Linked DNA regions of Homo sapiens. The protein of the gene in region 2 purifies or fractionates together with the protein of the main gene of each other region. This does not show direct contact. Each region holds a gene or a part of one and is shown on either strand. Other genes may lie near its edges.

Evidence for each region.
Region 1: the proteins of DYSF (region 2) and PCDHGA5 purify together in Homo sapiens (co-immunoprecipitation; one large-scale study listed by IntAct). This does not show direct contact.
Region 3: the proteins of DYSF (region 2) and LRRC52 purify together in Homo sapiens (co-immunoprecipitation; one large-scale study listed by IntAct). This does not show direct contact.
Region 4: the proteins of DYSF (region 2) and RIPOR2 purify together in Homo sapiens (affinity purification with western blotting; one study listed by BioGRID). This does not show direct contact.

What each region holds. Positions count from the first base shown.
Region 1 is NC_000005.10:141,362,776-141,366,961, reverse strand, and holds the start of PCDHGA5 (protocadherin gamma-A5 isoform 1 precursor), read right to left. Parts: upstream 2,801-4,186; 5' UTR 2,632-2,800; coding exon 211-2,631; coding exon of another isoform or gene 190-210; exon of another isoform or gene 1-189. UniProt on the Homo sapiens protein: Potential calcium-dependent cell-adhesion protein. May be involved in the establishment and maintenance of specific neuronal connections in the brain.
Region 2 is NC_000002.12:71,465,552-71,469,498, reverse strand, and holds the start of DYSF (dysferlin), read right to left. Parts: upstream 2,801-3,947; 5' UTR 2,657-2,800; coding exon 2,566-2,656; intron 1-2,565. UniProt on the Homo sapiens protein: Key calcium ion sensor involved in the Ca(2+)-triggered synaptic vesicle-plasma membrane fusion.
Region 3 is NC_000001.11:165,550,500-165,553,999, reverse strand, and holds part of LRRC52 (leucine-rich repeat-containing protein 52 precursor), read right to left. Parts: intron 1-3,500. UniProt on the Homo sapiens protein: Auxiliary protein of the large-conductance, voltage and calcium-activated potassium channel (BK alpha).
Region 4 is NC_000006.12:24,933,161-24,937,109, reverse strand, and holds the start of RIPOR2 (rho family-interacting cell polarization regulator 2), read left to right. Parts: upstream 1-1,149; 5' UTR 1,150-1,211; coding exon 1,212-1,272; intron 1,273-2,739; exon of another isoform or gene 2,740-2,864; intron 2,865-3,045; exon of another isoform or gene 3,046-3,135; intron 3,136-3,949. UniProt on the Homo sapiens protein: Acts as an inhibitor of the small GTPase RHOA and plays several roles in the regulation of myoblast and hair cell differentiation, lymphocyte T proliferation and neutrophil polarization.

The sequences.
Region 1 (4,186 bases), on a different chromosome or scaffold from region 2:
CACTTAAGTCTACAGATATCAGCTAGACTTCCCAAAACAGAATTTGAAAACAAATGGAGAAAGCATGAATTATATAAAAAAAATTAATCTCCAATACAGCAAATAATGTTCCACTATTTACATAACTAGCTGATTCTGAATATGACAGAAACATGAAAAAGGAAACAAATGAAAATGTTCTGGTCATCCTTACCGAAAGAGAAAACTAACCTGAACTCGCCGTTCTTCTTTGTTTGCATCTACCTTATCAGACATCAGAAGAGGCTCGCTTTTCTCACAGCTCTCTTCACTAAGGAGCGTGTCTGCGTAGTTGGGCTGGGGAAAGATCAGGTGACTCTTCCTCGAGTCCGCGGTGAGGGAGACCTCGTGGGAATAGGTCTGCAGGAAAGCCCGAACCCCATCCACGCCCACAAAGTGCGAGGCGGGCACACCCGCCAACCTGCTGCCTTCAGCCTGAAGCAGGCGTGACTTGTGCCAGCGCCTCAGTCTGAGCACCAGCAGCACGATGACGAAGGCCAGGAAGACGCAGGAGACTGCAGCCACTGCCACCACAAGATAGAGTGTGAGGTCCAGATCCTCAGGGTCAATGGGGGTCTTGATACTGCCTAGGTCAGCCAGGATGTCAGGGATCCTGTCGGCCACGGCAACGGTGACCGTGAAGGTGGCTGACAGAGGGGGCTGGCCATGGTCTTCGACGGCCACCACGAGGCTCTGCTTGAGCGCGTCTCTGTCCAGCAGGGCTCGCGCTGTGCGCACCTCGCCCGTGTGCAGCCCAACCGCAAAGAGTCCTGGCTCGCTGGCCTTAAGCAGGCGGTAGGACAGCCAGGCGTTCTGGCCTGAATCTTTGTCCACCGCTACCACCTTGGTCACCAGGTAGCCAGGTTCTGCGGAGCGAGGCGCCAGCTCCACGCCCGTGGAACCGTCTGTGGGGAGGGCGGGGTACAGGATCTCAGGCGTATTGTCGTTCTGGTCCAGCACAAACAGGCTCAGCGACACGTTGCTGCTAAGTGGAGGGTTCCCACTGTCGCTGGCTGTCACCCACAACTGTAGGTCTCTCAACTGCTCATAGTCGAAGGATCTCAGAGCATACAGGACACCGGTGTCAGAGTTAATGGATACATAGGAGGACAAGGGCGCCCCCTGAAATGTGTCTTCAGCCAGGGAGTAGGTGACTCGAGCGTTGTCGCCGCTGTCGGGGTCATGGGCTGTCACAGAGAAGATAGAGACACCTCTGGGATTGTTTTCTGTGACAGAGGTGGAGTAGGAGGCTTGAGGGAAATTGGGTGGGTTGTCATTAACGTCTGCTACTTTCAAGGGGATGTGGCTTTCTGTAGAGAGGGGCGGGGTTCCATGGTCCATGACGGTTAAAGTGATATTATAATCTGAAGTCTCTTCTCTGTCCAGGTCCCTAGTTGTTAATAGGTGATAGTAATTATCAACTGACTTCTCCAATTTAAAAGGCAAATTCCTAGGAATAGAGCATGCAATCTCACCATTTTCTCCAGAATCACCATCATGTACGCTAAACAGCGCGATTACAGTTCCGGGAAGACAGTCTTCAGAGATCGAACTGGTCAGAGAGGTGAGGATCACTTCGGGGGCATTGTCATTCACGTCCTGTACTGTGACCACCACCTTAGCGCTGGCAACAAGAGCGCCTCCATCCTGAGCTACCACTTCCATGAGGTAGAATCTGGATTCTTCATAGTCCAGTGATTGTAGAGTTGAGATTTCCCCCAGGTTGGAATCAAGTTGGAAAGTCTCCGAAATTTTTTCTTCTTCATTGCGAAAAGAGTAGGTCAATTTCCCGTTTATTCCCTCATCTGGATCCGTGGCGGTTAGCATGAGCAGCCGAGTGCCCACAGGTATGTTCTCTGGAACACTCACGCTGTACTCGGATGGGGTGAACAGGGGCGCATTGTCGTTTGCGTCGAGGACCGTAACACGGATGTGCGTGGTGCCGGAGAGTACCGGGTCTCCGCCATCTAAAGCTGTGAGGAGGAGGTCGTGAACAGTCTCTTTCTCGCGGTCTAGGGGCTGTTCCAACACCAGCTCCGGATACTTTTGTCCATCAGTTCCGCTTACCACATCCAGAGAGAAGTGCAGATTGGAGCTGAGCTGGTAACTCCGGAGAGAGTTCACACCCACATCCGCATCCCGCGCGAAGGGAAGCACTAACCGTGTCCCTGCAGCCGCATTTTCATTAACTTTTACTTTTAACTCTTCATCCCGGAAACGCGGGAAGTTATCATTAATATCGATTATTTCTACTTCTACTCCATAAATTTTCATTTTGTTCTCAACCAAGATGTTAAAGTTCACCACACACAGTGGGCTCTGAGCGCAGAGCTCCTCCCGGTCTATCCTGCCCGCGGTGACCAAGCTGCCGCTTCGCGGGTTCAGGGCAAAAAGCTGCGTCCTACCTCTGGAGACGATGCGGACTCCGCGCTCCGCCAGCTCCTGGGGCTCCAGCCCAAGGTCCTTGGCTATGTTGCCGACGAAGGAGCCTTTGTCCAGCTCCTCCGGCATCGAGTAGCGGATCTGCCCGGATCCTGGCTCGCACAGCGTCCCCAGGAGCATGAAGGGCAGCAGCAGCTCTCCGCAGCCCCAGCCCCTAGGTGGACTCGCCATTGCCTTCTCTCTGCCCAATTTTCTCTTAGTTCTGGTTCAGCCTGCTGTTTCCTTATTTATCTAAAGCCGATGGGTACATATTCCCTGACGAAAATGGGCGTGGAGCGTTGGCTTTTCGTAGGAGCTTGTCTGGTCTGTGTGTTTAGTATGGAGGGAGCAGAGTCGGGTCGCCTCTGCGGCAGCTTCTTTCCCACTTTGGTCAACAGCGACACTCAGAGTCCTAACCAGTGACTGCATCAAATTCCATTTTTATTTCTCCTAAGTTTAGTTATAATTTTATTTCTAATAATGTTGCCATATCCTTAATGTTTAACTGTGTAGCGTTGTTTATGACCGTTAATTCAGCTTTAATTCTGAATAGCAAGACTTCCACAATCCCTGAGATCAATATGATTATTAGATCTCAATACCTTACAAAAATTTTATTTAATGCGTCATCGGGGGAGCCTATGTCCTTTATTTACCTCTTATCTATATTTAGTCCATTAAATTAGGACATTCAAATTCTTACCTTTGTAGGATTCAAGATTTCATCTCCTTATTAGGATAAATTTAGGAAAACGTGCTTATTTGCATATAAGAATACCAAGGAAACAAACCCAGTTCTCCATGCACCTTTCCAAACAGGCCTACTGATTTATGTAAGTTATATTAGCTGTCATATGCAGAAGAAATAAAGATCTTTGTTACTTGTGAGGACTTTGAGAAAGTCTCTCCACTATCTCAGACAGCGTTTGAGTTGGGTTAACTATGCATTTTTATGTTTTTCTATTACCATGTTCAAATATTTGTAGTTCCAGTGACAACCAGTATAGTAACTGTGGAGGATGGGGTTTTATTTCATCATCCATGCAGGAAAGCATGAGCAGATACTTGTCGAGAAGTACTGAGTGACCTTTCTATGTTGAGACAGATATTTACTGCTATCATCTTTATATGACAACAGAAATAGAAAAACCTCTTGATTGAAAAAAATGGACATTTCAGAAAGTCATTTTATTTAATAACACTTTCATAGAAAACTAAGAAAATAAAAATTCTATATAATTAGGAAATTCAAAAGCAAAGTTTTAAGTAATATTTTGTAGAAAATGATGTGAACATAGGTTGTAAGATTTTTCTCAATGTGTAGTTTTTCTTAAGAGCAATTTGTTAAAATGCATGTTAGAGAATGATTTCTCACATTTGTTAAATGCACTCTTTCTAGCAGACACCTCAGACCTCAAACATTGCCTGTCCTTTAGAAATACATTTGTGATTCCAAGACATTTAGCTTACTGAGTGTTGGTCTTCAAGTCAATGGGACAATGTCCTACCCATGCCCTGTGATTAACAAGCCATGCCATTATGCAAAAGTCTTTCTTCTTTGTTTCCCAATTTCCAAAGCCTACTAAAATGAAGACTCTCTTTACTCTGAAGTATTATGATTCTAAGAGGAAGTAAAACTAAAATTTGAATAACAAAGAGCCTGAAGGTGAAACTAATTGCCTAAAGTCTCAATAGCAACAAATCTGCAGAGAGAAGTAATGTAAAGATGAGGAAGAAAAAGAAATAC
Region 2 (3,947 bases):
CTGTCCCATCTGTGCCATGAGGAGCTGGGCTCAGTGGTTCTCAACCCTGACTGCACATTCAAAACACCTGGAAATTTGACAGAAACAACACCTATGCCTGGGGCCCCACCGGAAGGGATCTGGCTTCAGAAAAGGCAGGCAGGGAGGTTGGCAGTGGTCTTTGGTGAAGCTCCCACACACAATGTTGACCTGCAGCCAGAGTTGAGTCCCCCCAGCCTACATGCTCTGTAAGTTCTGAACCTGGTTCTAACGGTTTCCCTCCTTAGGCATCAACTCAGCCCCAAACTCCCCAGTGAATGCTCCCGCAATGGGGAGCGCATTAATTTCACCTGCCATCACATCTCAGACCCATTTTTCCCAAGATGCGGTTCCAAAATAACCTGCATCGGGTATTTGTTAAGTGCTGATTCTTAGGTCACCTTCCAGACCTGCTGCATCGGAACCTCTACAGATGGGGACTCTGGAATCTGTTTCTCAAACACGTTCTACAAGTGATTCTCAGGAACAATCAAGTGAGCGGACCATGTCCCAGACTAAATGAAGCTCCCAGGCACACCTGGAGGATGGCTAGAGGCTGGGCCAGAAAGCGCACAAACACTAGAGAGCACCTACTTGTGCTCAGCACTGGGACAAACCAATGAACAAATAGGACAGGTCACTGCTCTCAAGGCACCTAAGCATGGAGCTGAGCACAGGCCAGTCAGGGCGAGGGTGCTAGCATCCCTAGCAAGGTGCTGCTGCTTGTCATCCAGAGAGGAGAGACTCTTGAGAGCCAGGGGGATCCAGGGTGTCCTCCTGGAGAAGGTGGCATTGCCCTGGGCTTTGAAATACAAATAGACTTGAAACGGTTGGAGATGTTACATTCTATTGTATGGTATTTCTGTTTTCCGAGGAGATCATCAGTGCAAATAAATAGTAAGGCATTACAAAGAAGGAATACAGAGATCTGGGGGGAGATAGCAGCTGCACGTGTTCGGGGTACTTGGGCGAGGGCAATAGTAAAGAGGGGCCTCAAGGGATTTGGTCATCTTCCCGACTCAAGGGCAATACCCACTCCAAGCGCTGGTAGCTCCCTGCCATGACCACTGACCTGAACACATTTAACTTCCCTGGGTTTCAATTTCCTTATTTGCAGAATGGAGACATTGGTAGCCACCACAGGACTGTTACAGGACAAGGGAAAGAGCTGTGAGCAGACCCAAACGAGTGTTAGAGCATCCAGAGCCCTATGCTAATGTGTGCCCTGCCCAGTGTCCTTAGGGAATTTCTTTTCCAGCCAATGGTGACACCGCAATTTCTGCATAGCAAAGCCTTAGGCAGCATCAGGTGGACACTGGAGAAGGAAAGACTTTGTCTTGAAGTTGCTCTTGCATAGTGAACTCCCAGGCATGTCACCAATCAATGAAAATAGTGAAATTTTCTTAAACGTTTCAAATCACATCTTTCAAAAGAGGAATACATATAACTTGTCCCACAGCAAAGAATAAAAGCTACACATAAATCTCCCTTTGCCAAATCATGTCTTTCATCTATCATTATCTTGGGGGTGCTTGGAGATATGATTCAGATCATGGGTCAGACTGAAAAGAGTTCCCTTGGTGCCTGCACTGAAGGAGGCTTATGAAAACACCAGCTACTCTTCCTTCTTCATTTGACTATCTTTTCTGATACGTAGATTTTTATTATTATTATTATCGATTCCACAAAGCTACAGGGTATGGCTCCTGGCTAAGTGGAAACCCTCTTTCCTCTCCTGATTTATCTTTCTCTGCAGAACTGGGGTCCTGACTCACAGCTATTGTTCCTTCTCTTAATTTTGACAGATCCTTCCTCTTCCCTTTCCCCTCCTGAGACACCCGCTCCAGTGGGAATCTGCCTTGGAGGGGTTGGGGGAGGGGGTTCAGGACGCCTGGTGAGAAGAGGAGTGTGTGTGTGATTTCTCTGCTGCCCCACACAGAAATACCTGTATGTATTCTAAGCACTACATGTAGGGACTTAGCTTCTTGAATTTAGAGAAAATATCCTTGACATTCCTCAAAACTCCTTGTGTCAAGGCCATTTCCATCCTATTCTGTTCCTTTTCCTACTGATTAAGACGGGGCAGATTCAATACAGCCAATGTTGGATAAAGATGGGTGAATGAATGAATGAATGAATGAAAAAAGACACAACTTTCAAAGCACATCATCTACACGCCCCGTTTTTCAGAGGCCCTGATTCCTCTCTACCTTCTGCACCCATCTTCCAACTTACCCTTATCCCCACTACCCAGTAAAAGCTCGGACTTTATTTCCTCTGGGTGTCAGTCTTAGAAAAGTGATAACCGCTGACCTACGGCACTTTCGCTTTTCCAATTTTTCAAAGCCCTGTGGCATTTATTGTGCTCTGCTTATTCCTCATCGCCCCCCTGCAGAAGTCGGGGCTGGGATTTCCGTCCCTGCTGACAAAGGGAGAAACTGTGGCCTGGACTAGGGTTAGCTCCGGAGCAGGGGCTTCAGACCCGCCAGTGAGCGCCGAGAGTCGGGTAGCACCCGAGCATGGGCGCGGCAGCCACGGGGCTCTCACCTCGGAAAGTCAGGCTTGCGACAGGGTCGCTGCGCCGGTCCTTCTTCGCACTGGGGAGGTTGCTGGCCCTCACCAGCAGGCAGCACAGCATGGCTGGGCAGCCCCGGCGGCACACAGGCGCGCAGTCAGGGCGGGAGCGGGAGCACCGGGCCCGAGCACCCACCCAGCAAGCGCCCGGCTCCCAGGCAGCCGCGCCAAGAGAGCTGTCGCCTTCGCTGCTCCTCCGCGGAGAAGTGACCAATGCCTGGGAGAGGCTGCAGGGAGGACACCGGACACCCGCTGGGCGGACCCTCCCCCTCCGGCCCCTACCCAGATCCGCCCTGCCCGCGGCGGGCGGGGAGGGACAGGGGTCAGACGGGCGCCTGTGGGGGTGCTGGTCCCTAGCTCCGCGGGTCCCAGCTCCCGGCCAGGAACGAGGCGCCGCTGACGCGGGCGCGCAGCTCGGCCTCCGAGAGCGCACAAGGCGCCGTGGGGCCTGCTCCGCGGGGGCCTCCGGTGACCAAGGCTCCACACCAGCCAGGGATCCCGGGCCCGGTGCGCACCGGTGCCGACTTGGCAGCCGCCCTGTGCGCTCGACGAAAGGGTGAGAAGGAGGCAGGAGTGCAGGCGGAAGGAGTGGGCAATCAGCGGCGGGGACGAGAGTGTGTCTTCGGGGAAACCAAGTCTGAGTGAGCGCTGAAGGGGGAGTGTGCGGAGCGTGCCGTGCACCCCGAGCCCCCCGCCTCATTGCCTCTCGCCTCTCTCCACCTGCCCCATGATCTGCGCCAGGGAGCCGGTCCTCTCCCGTCCGCAGGCTGTCTAGGTGGCCGTTCTGGTTTGCTGGGACCCCCGGGTCGGGAGAGACTCCGAGGTTCGAGTCCCCACCAACCCTCCTCGGAGCCTTCTCCGCAGCGGTGTCGAGTCACTCATCTCTGGAGGCAGAGATCTGTATTCAAATCATACTGCGTTCCCTGGAGAACTAGGGTCCAGCTGCGGCCCATTCTGTCCCCTGCAAGTCCCCCATCCCCAACAATCTCTACACTCCCTAGTCTCCACAGTGGAAAGCTGTTCAAGGTGTAAGCCATGAACGGTGACAGTCGTTTCGCTTATTATGTCTGGTTCCTTTCCAGCGTATGAACTTCTTGACACAGGGGCCCTGGCTTCGCACTTCTATCCCCCAGCACTCCAGCACCTAGCCCCTGTCAGGGCACTGTCCGTCTTCCCACCGCCCAAGTCCTCACTAACCAACCTGCTCACTCAGCCTAAACGCACTGCTGCGCAAAATCTCAACTCCCTTTCCCCTCTCTTATTTTGAGGGATACAGCATTCTCACAGGGCTAAGCCATAACCCTGGCGAATCCAACTCCGCCTCCTCCACACCTGCCCCCAACCAGTGCTGTGTT
Region 3 (3,500 bases), on a different chromosome or scaffold from region 2:
CAGCCCACCTTGGTGTTGCCTGCTCAACTAGGATGTGAGCATCTCAAGGACAATGGATATTTTATAGTCGCCTAATTGGATTGGTGTTATGGAAGCTTCATAGAAAACATTACATGAAAATGTGTACTTTATAGATATATAGTCATTTTTTGTCTTTCACCTCACTGAAAGAGAAATACAGGCACCAATTGGGCCCCTCAATTGTATTTGTCCCCTGTTATTACAGTCACCCCCATCTATGTTTACCCTCGCCTCCTTCTCTGCAGTCCCAGAGGGCAGAGGGGGTGCCACTCCCCTTTCAAGGATTACCCCTTGGAGATCATCCATCCATTTCTGTCCTCTCAGGGACTTTACCCCACCAATGACTTCCCCTCTTTCTTGTATCTTTGTCCTTTTTCTCTGCATCGACTCTTTCCATCAGCAGATAAACACATGGTTGGATCTCTTTTCTCCTAAAAATCCTCCTTCTTCATTTGTTTTCTCTCCAACTAGCACCCTATTCCCTTCAGTCCACAGCCATGCTTTCTAGAAGAGTAGTTTACATGGTTTACTCCTTCACACCTTTTATGTTCAGTTCATAGCCCATTATGGATTGGTGTTCACTCTCATCATGCCAGCAGAACTGCCCAAGACATCAGGGATCCCTGGTGCTAAATCTGATGGACAGTTTTCTGTCCTTATCTGACCTGCTCCCACTTTTTGGAACTCTTTGGCTTCCATGAATTTATCCTGTTCTAATTTCCTTTGTCTGGGGGCTCCTGCTGTCCTACATGAGTTGCTCTTTCTTACTTGACCCTTTAGTATGTTGCATTCCCCAAAGCTTCTGTACTTGGCCCTTATTATCCTCACTTGAAACTCTTTTTCCTGATTGATCTCATCTTCTGTTAGGTTTCAGTGATCACTAGTAAGTTGATGATCCCCAAATATATGTATATTTTATGCCCTGTCCTCTATTCTGAATTTCAGGTCAGAACATACAAATGCCTAGTGTTTTACAGGGACTTCCCACTCAGTAAGGTCAAGATGGGACTTGACTTCTAGCCTGACTTCCTCACTGCCCTCCTCCAAGTGTGTTTATGTCAGCAAAGCCCCCACACTGTCCAAGCCAAAGTCTTGGGAGCTACCATTGATTTTTCCCTTTTCTATATTTTCTGTATCTCATTCATTCACTCAGGAAACACTAGTTGAGCATTTTCTCTGTGTCAGGCCTGTGCTTGTTTCCGAAGATCCAGATCTGCTGTCATAGAGCTTCCGGTCTATCAGGGAAGACAAATGTTAAATGAATACACATTTATTAATTAGAATTGTGCCAGAAGTTACAAAGGGTGCACAAGAAACTATGAGAGGAGCTAGTTCAGTCCCAAATCCTGTTGCTTCTGCCTTCTAAATGATTCCTTCTCAAATGTCTACACCTCTCCTCCTCACTGTTGCCATAGGCTGCCATACTGTCTGGCTTGAACGCCTACGGGAGCTTCCTTCCTAGCCTTACCTCCAGCTCACTTGCCTCCCAAGACTTCTTAGGATATATTGCATGTTCCCCAGAAAACCATTCAAGGCCCTTCCTAGCTGGGCCCCCATTCTTTTCTCTAGCCACATCCATCCTTTGTAGGATTACCTCCAGGATGAGGAGCTCTTCACCTTTAAAGATGAGCAAACTGAGGTTGGCTGCTTTAGCCAGACTTGAACTGCTGTTTTTCAGAGTCCTGAGTGATGCTGGGTGACCTGAGGGGCCAGGTGTAGAAATCTGGCATTTCTGAGCTTGGAGTAACCTTCGATCACCTACTCTCAGGGATCCCAATTGGCCTGAGTCAGGGAGTGTGTCAGCATCACCCAGGGGTTCCTAAATGTCCCATGCTTGCTGCTCCTATCCCTTCTTGGATTTTCTGGGTGGCTTAGGGATCACTGACTCAGTTGCACCCCTCTCAGCCCCCTCCTTGCCCTCAGGAGGCTGCTGTTCTGGCTTTCAACAGCCTTGGAAGCCTTGGAGCTGCTGGTTGCCCAGCCTTTTTTTTTTTTTTTTCTTTTTTAGCCTTTGGTCTTTATTTTAATTTCCCTGATGGAGGACATGGGTAAGCATTGATAGTGGAATAACGTGAGGACCTGAATTCATTCCGGAAATCTAAGTTTGGGCACAGTTGTGGATGACTTTGTACTTGGTAGGTAGAAATGGGGCCATTATCCCATTACAACAGTCTTGAATACAGGATGATATAACCTCGTAATGAAACTAAGATGTTCTCTGCTCAAAACGCCCTCAAAATGACTTGGACCTGAAGCAGCACATGACTCAACCCATCTGCTCCCTGCAGATGGCCCTGAGTGGCTTTGTCCACTGCCTCTGCAGCACCCTTGCTCAAGCTCCTCTGATGTGTGGGCCCCACCATCAGGCTCATTTAGTACTGGCTAAGGCTATCAGAGCTGACACAGAGGGGACTCTCTGTCCTCAAACCGCCCCACTCTAGCCCCTGGTAGCCTGTCACTTTCTGAATTCTCACTGTTTCTGGTTGTTCCCTGTCAAATTGCAAATGCTCCCTGAGGGGATATTTCAAAACACTAGCCATTAGCATCTCAGAGCAAATCGATTCATTTACTAATTGGAACAGCCACTGAAGGTCCAGAACACAGGCCACTGTTCTAGGGTTTCTGAAAAGTGGCCTAAGGACAACCGGCATGAAGAGTTGACTGAATCAGAACCTCAGGGCATAGGACCTGGGATTCTTGTGCTCATTAGAGTTTGAGAAGCACTGTTTGAGCAGGTCTGGCCTGGGAGGAAAGTCTGGGGCAATGAGTTTCTTGGGGTGGAGGCATTGTTTTAGTGAAGTTGAGGGTGCTTAATATAGGAGGTGGGAGAGTACAGGAGTTAGAGGCATCTGTTTCTTAAATGAACTTCCTAATTATGTGATGTAGCCCTCATCACTGGGAACACCTTCGCCTCAGCACTTGCCACTCTGCACTTGCTCACCTGGGACCTTGCCTGCTGAGCGCTGTTCTCCTCTCACCTCCTGTGTGCTTATCTTTCTATTTAGGTCCATAGGCTACCAGCTATAGGAGGCCTTTGAGGATCTCTAACCCAAATCCTTTATTTTAAGGACAAGAAAAGTGACTCTTGAAGAAGGAAAGTGAGTTTCCCCATATCACACAGTGGCATTTCTGGGATCAAGACAGGGCTTCCTGGCTTTCAATTCTATTTTCTGTTTCTCGTATCCTAGATTATCTTATTCAAGACAAAAATTATGACTTTTTTTCTCGGTGAAACAGCCACCCCAGCATTATAATGCAATGTTGGGGACATAATGAATATACAATAAATGTTTCAGAGTTAAATGGATCATGATGTGCTTGACAGCAAAGAAATATCATGGCATCAGGGAAAAACATTGAACTTGGATGTCAGGATATCTCTGTGCTGGGCTTTTCTCTATAGCCACTTACCTGTGACTCTGGATTCTAAAGTTCCAGCTTAAACATCCTATGTTAAAAGGCTACCCTAACCAGTATGG
Region 4 (3,949 bases), on a different chromosome or scaffold from region 2:
CCCTCAGTGTCTGATTCCTGAATTCCTCTGGGGTGATCCCTTCTCACTGCTGGATTTCTCCAACCCTGTTGTCCACAGTCTCTTCTGGGAGAAAATGGTGCAATTTCAAGGTTGCAGTTACAGGAGGAGGGGACAGTTTCTCTAGGGTAACACTGGGAGTATCTTCAAAACCATGCAGTAAATAAAGTGCCAAAAATAAACACCTTGGGTCAACAGCTCCTCACTGTCATCTCCATTTGCATTTTCTAAGCTTCTGGCCACCTAAGAGATCTTACAACACAGTGGAGTGCTCTGGGAAACCCCGAAATGAAGTCTCAGTATTACTCAGAGAGATGTGTGTTTGTTTGTGCAGCCAGACAGAATTTGGCACACGTTGGGTAGCTCGATATGGTGATGCCAGCCAATGGTGCTCGCGTAGAAGCTCAGTGTTCACTCATCCCTTTGGGAGGACTGCTTTTTGAGTTACATTTTCTTCTTTCTCCTTTAGTGATACAGTCTGAAGTATCAAACTGAGTAAATATTGTGAAATGCAAGATGTTTGACCAAAACCAGTTATCTATTCATTGACTATAGATTTAATCGAGCCACATAAAGCCTAGATATGGTTCAGTTTGGTTTAAATGCTGTAAAGTTTCCAATCCTTAAATGCAAGAGGTTTGAAAAAAAGAAAAGAAAAGAAAAGAAAAATGCAACTATTACTGAGCAAAATAAAAGCTCTGTCCTCTAAATGCCTGCTTTGGTTTAACATAGTGGCTTGCTTTACTTTCAGATAAATTGTAATTGAAGCAAAACCAAGATATGAGAAATATGAACTCCCTCTTTCAACAAAACCCATTGTGTTCAAATTCATAAGCAAGAAAGTTAAGCACCCACCTTCCTCTTTAAGGAAATATGAAAGTTGTTGCTTTGAAATAGAATTCATTGCATTCAGACTTTGAGTGATATCTGTATTCATATCCAACCGGATCTGCAGCCCTCTTCAAAAAATTCTTTCTCCTCAGTGGTGAGAATTACCCCACCTGGGATTCACTCTTCACAAGGCTCAAGAAGCCTATTCATATGAATGAAACTGCTTTCTTCAGGGCAGATGCGGAAGCTGCCCTCCAGAGGGCTTGGGCAACCCAAGGAAAGGAAATCACCTCGGTCGGCAGTGTGACTGCTGAGACTGCCGGGGCTGCTGCCTGCTGCTTCTCGCGCCTGTCCTCTCCAAGATGCAGTTTTTTGATGCTGAGGAGCTCCTGGTCGATGAAGAGGATGATGTTTTTGGTGAAGGTAAATGCATCTTTCTGGCAGGAGGCTCTCCGGTCTGCTTTGCTTTGTTTTGACACCACTGGACACTTTTGCCCAGCTTGGGCAAGGACTTGAGTATTTTGAAATGATAAAAACAAAGCATCCTGAGTGAGGTAGTGGCTGCAAATATCAACTTAGGCACTGAAGGAATACACAAGGCAAGGGGTGGAACAAGGGGTTGAGTCATTCCCGCAAATACATTTTTTAAAGTCATGACTAAAATAAAGGTTTAGTTTAGGCTGGAAAATAGTACTAAATTTTTTGCCTTGTCTCTCTTCTGTGCTATCTCTTGTCTAACACCTTAAGGAAAGCCTGTCACAGTGGTTTGAGCACAGCAGGGCTGCTAGGGAAGAAGTTAAATAAATGGACCAGGAGTGGTTTTTCATGGTACCATGTTGCTTTGATTTGCACTTCTCTCTTTCTGTCTCTCTCTCTCTCTGTCTCTCTCTCTCTGTCTATCTTTCTCTCGGTCCTTCTCTTTTTTTTTTTTTTTTTTTTTGTTGTTGTTTTTTGAGACAGAGTCTTGCTTTGTTGCTCAGGCTGGAGTGCAGTGGTGCAATCTCAGCTCACTGCAACCTCCGTCTCCCGGGTTCAAGTCATTCTCCTGCCTCAGCCTCCCAAGTAGCTGGGACTACAGGCGCCCACCACCATGCCCAGCTAATTTTTGTATTTTTAGTAGAGATGGGATTTTGCCATGTTGGCCAGGCTGGTCTTGAAATCCTGACTTCAGGTGATCCACCCTCCTTGGCCCCCCAAAGTGCTGGGATTACAGGCGTGAGCTACCATGCCCGGCCTGGGTCCTTCTCTCTTACTCTTCCTCACACATACTTGGCACTCCAACCCTCCATTCCCTTTTCCAATTTTCTTTTTTCCCAAGTCGGGATACTGGAGCCCTGGTAGCTTCCAATCCCCATTGGCACTGCTCAGTTTTCTGTTCTCATCTTGCAGCTTTTCCATGACTTGACCTATCCACTGGAATTTAACTGTAAAGGTTGCGATTTTAAAGGGATGATCTAGTCATTGGATGGATGTTTTGTTCAAATGCTGCCTATGAGATTGGGCTATAGGCAAAAGCTTTTTTAGAATTTGGAGCCACCTAAATAAAGGAAATTTGGACTCAAGAATCTCGTGAATTTGATTATTTTCCGCAAGAAACTACGTCTAGCAATTTTTTAAAAAACTCTATTCAGTAATTTTTTAAAAGGAACAGTAGTAAGGTTTTTGTGTATGTGTAATTACCCAAGCAATACAAGTTCGCTGAAGAAAAATTAGAGTGTCGCAAAGAACCCCTTGTAATCTAGTCATGTAGAATGTAATCATGGTTAATATTTTGATGTTGTCTTTCTGCTATGTTGTTCTAGCTACAGAAATATTTAAAATCATTAGTTGGGTTTTTATCACAACTTAAATCAATTTGAAGAATATCTATTGAGCTTCGCTGCTGTTTACCAAGTTATCATTCTGTTGTGTTACTTTGATGGCAGGCGTTTAGGCCACCAACACCTTGAAGTTTGATCTTAGGCCCCATTCTTCAGCTTTCACTTCTTAAAGATGTTTCCTCTTTAAGCAAACACCTTAAAGAGAAAATTTATACTTAGATACTAACTCTTTTGAGGACCTGAAAAATGCTCACAACTATGAAGATAAGCTTAGAACGGAAAAATTGGCAATCATTCACCCACACCTCCCTCCAGGAATGGCATTCCAAAACGCCCAGCCCACATTTCTTTGCCTATAGGAATTTTGCTCTTTTACATCTGGCTATGATACTTAAGAGCGCCCTCTATAGGCTGATGCACTGCACTCTGGATTATGCGTGGCCCCATCCTGAAGGGAAGCGTTAAGACCAAGCAGGGCTGGATGAACCTGTGTGTTCTCTCTCCTGAGCATTCATCATTTCCAAGGTGATTATTGTAACCTCACTAACCATGTTGTAGTGGAATGGCTGAGGTCCCCAGGTTCCAGGTAGCTAGGTAACCAGCTAGCTCTGAGGTGGGAAGTGAGGGAGGTAGTGCAGGTTGATAAGTTGGGAGTCAAACGAGATTCAGACTCAGATTCTGGTTCTGCTTCGTGGTACCCATACAAGCTAACTTTGGTCTCCTCAATGGTGAAGTGGGACAGTAATACCTATCGGTTGTACAGATTATCTTCATAGTAGATGCATAATGTTTGCGTTGCACTTCAATGTGGTATGCTTTATCTTTTCCAAACTGATTATCTCATTTAACTTAATCCCTAAAGATTAAAGAGAAAATCCTTGCAAGGCCAACATCCAGTGTATTTTTATTCAGTTTTCAGAGCCGTGGCTCATGTTTGGCAATTTATGTGAAAGCATGTCCAGCTGCTGCCTCATTTTAAGCAAGCTCTGTGTGGGGTAACAGTCAAAAGCTTCAGCTCTGGAATTGCACGGTCTAGGCTTTGCCAACCAATTCACTTATGACCTTAAGCAGGTTACCTAATCTCTCTGTGCCTCAGTTTACTCACTTATAAAATGGAGTCCAAACCTCATATGGCTGTGTGTGGCTTAAGTGTTATGATAGGGAAAGCTTTTAGAATAGTGGTCAGTACTTAATACATATGAATCCCTATTGTCTATTTACAAAAATGGGTTTATAGAATAGTGACCATTTTTTCACGTCTGGTTAACCTCAGATTCAAA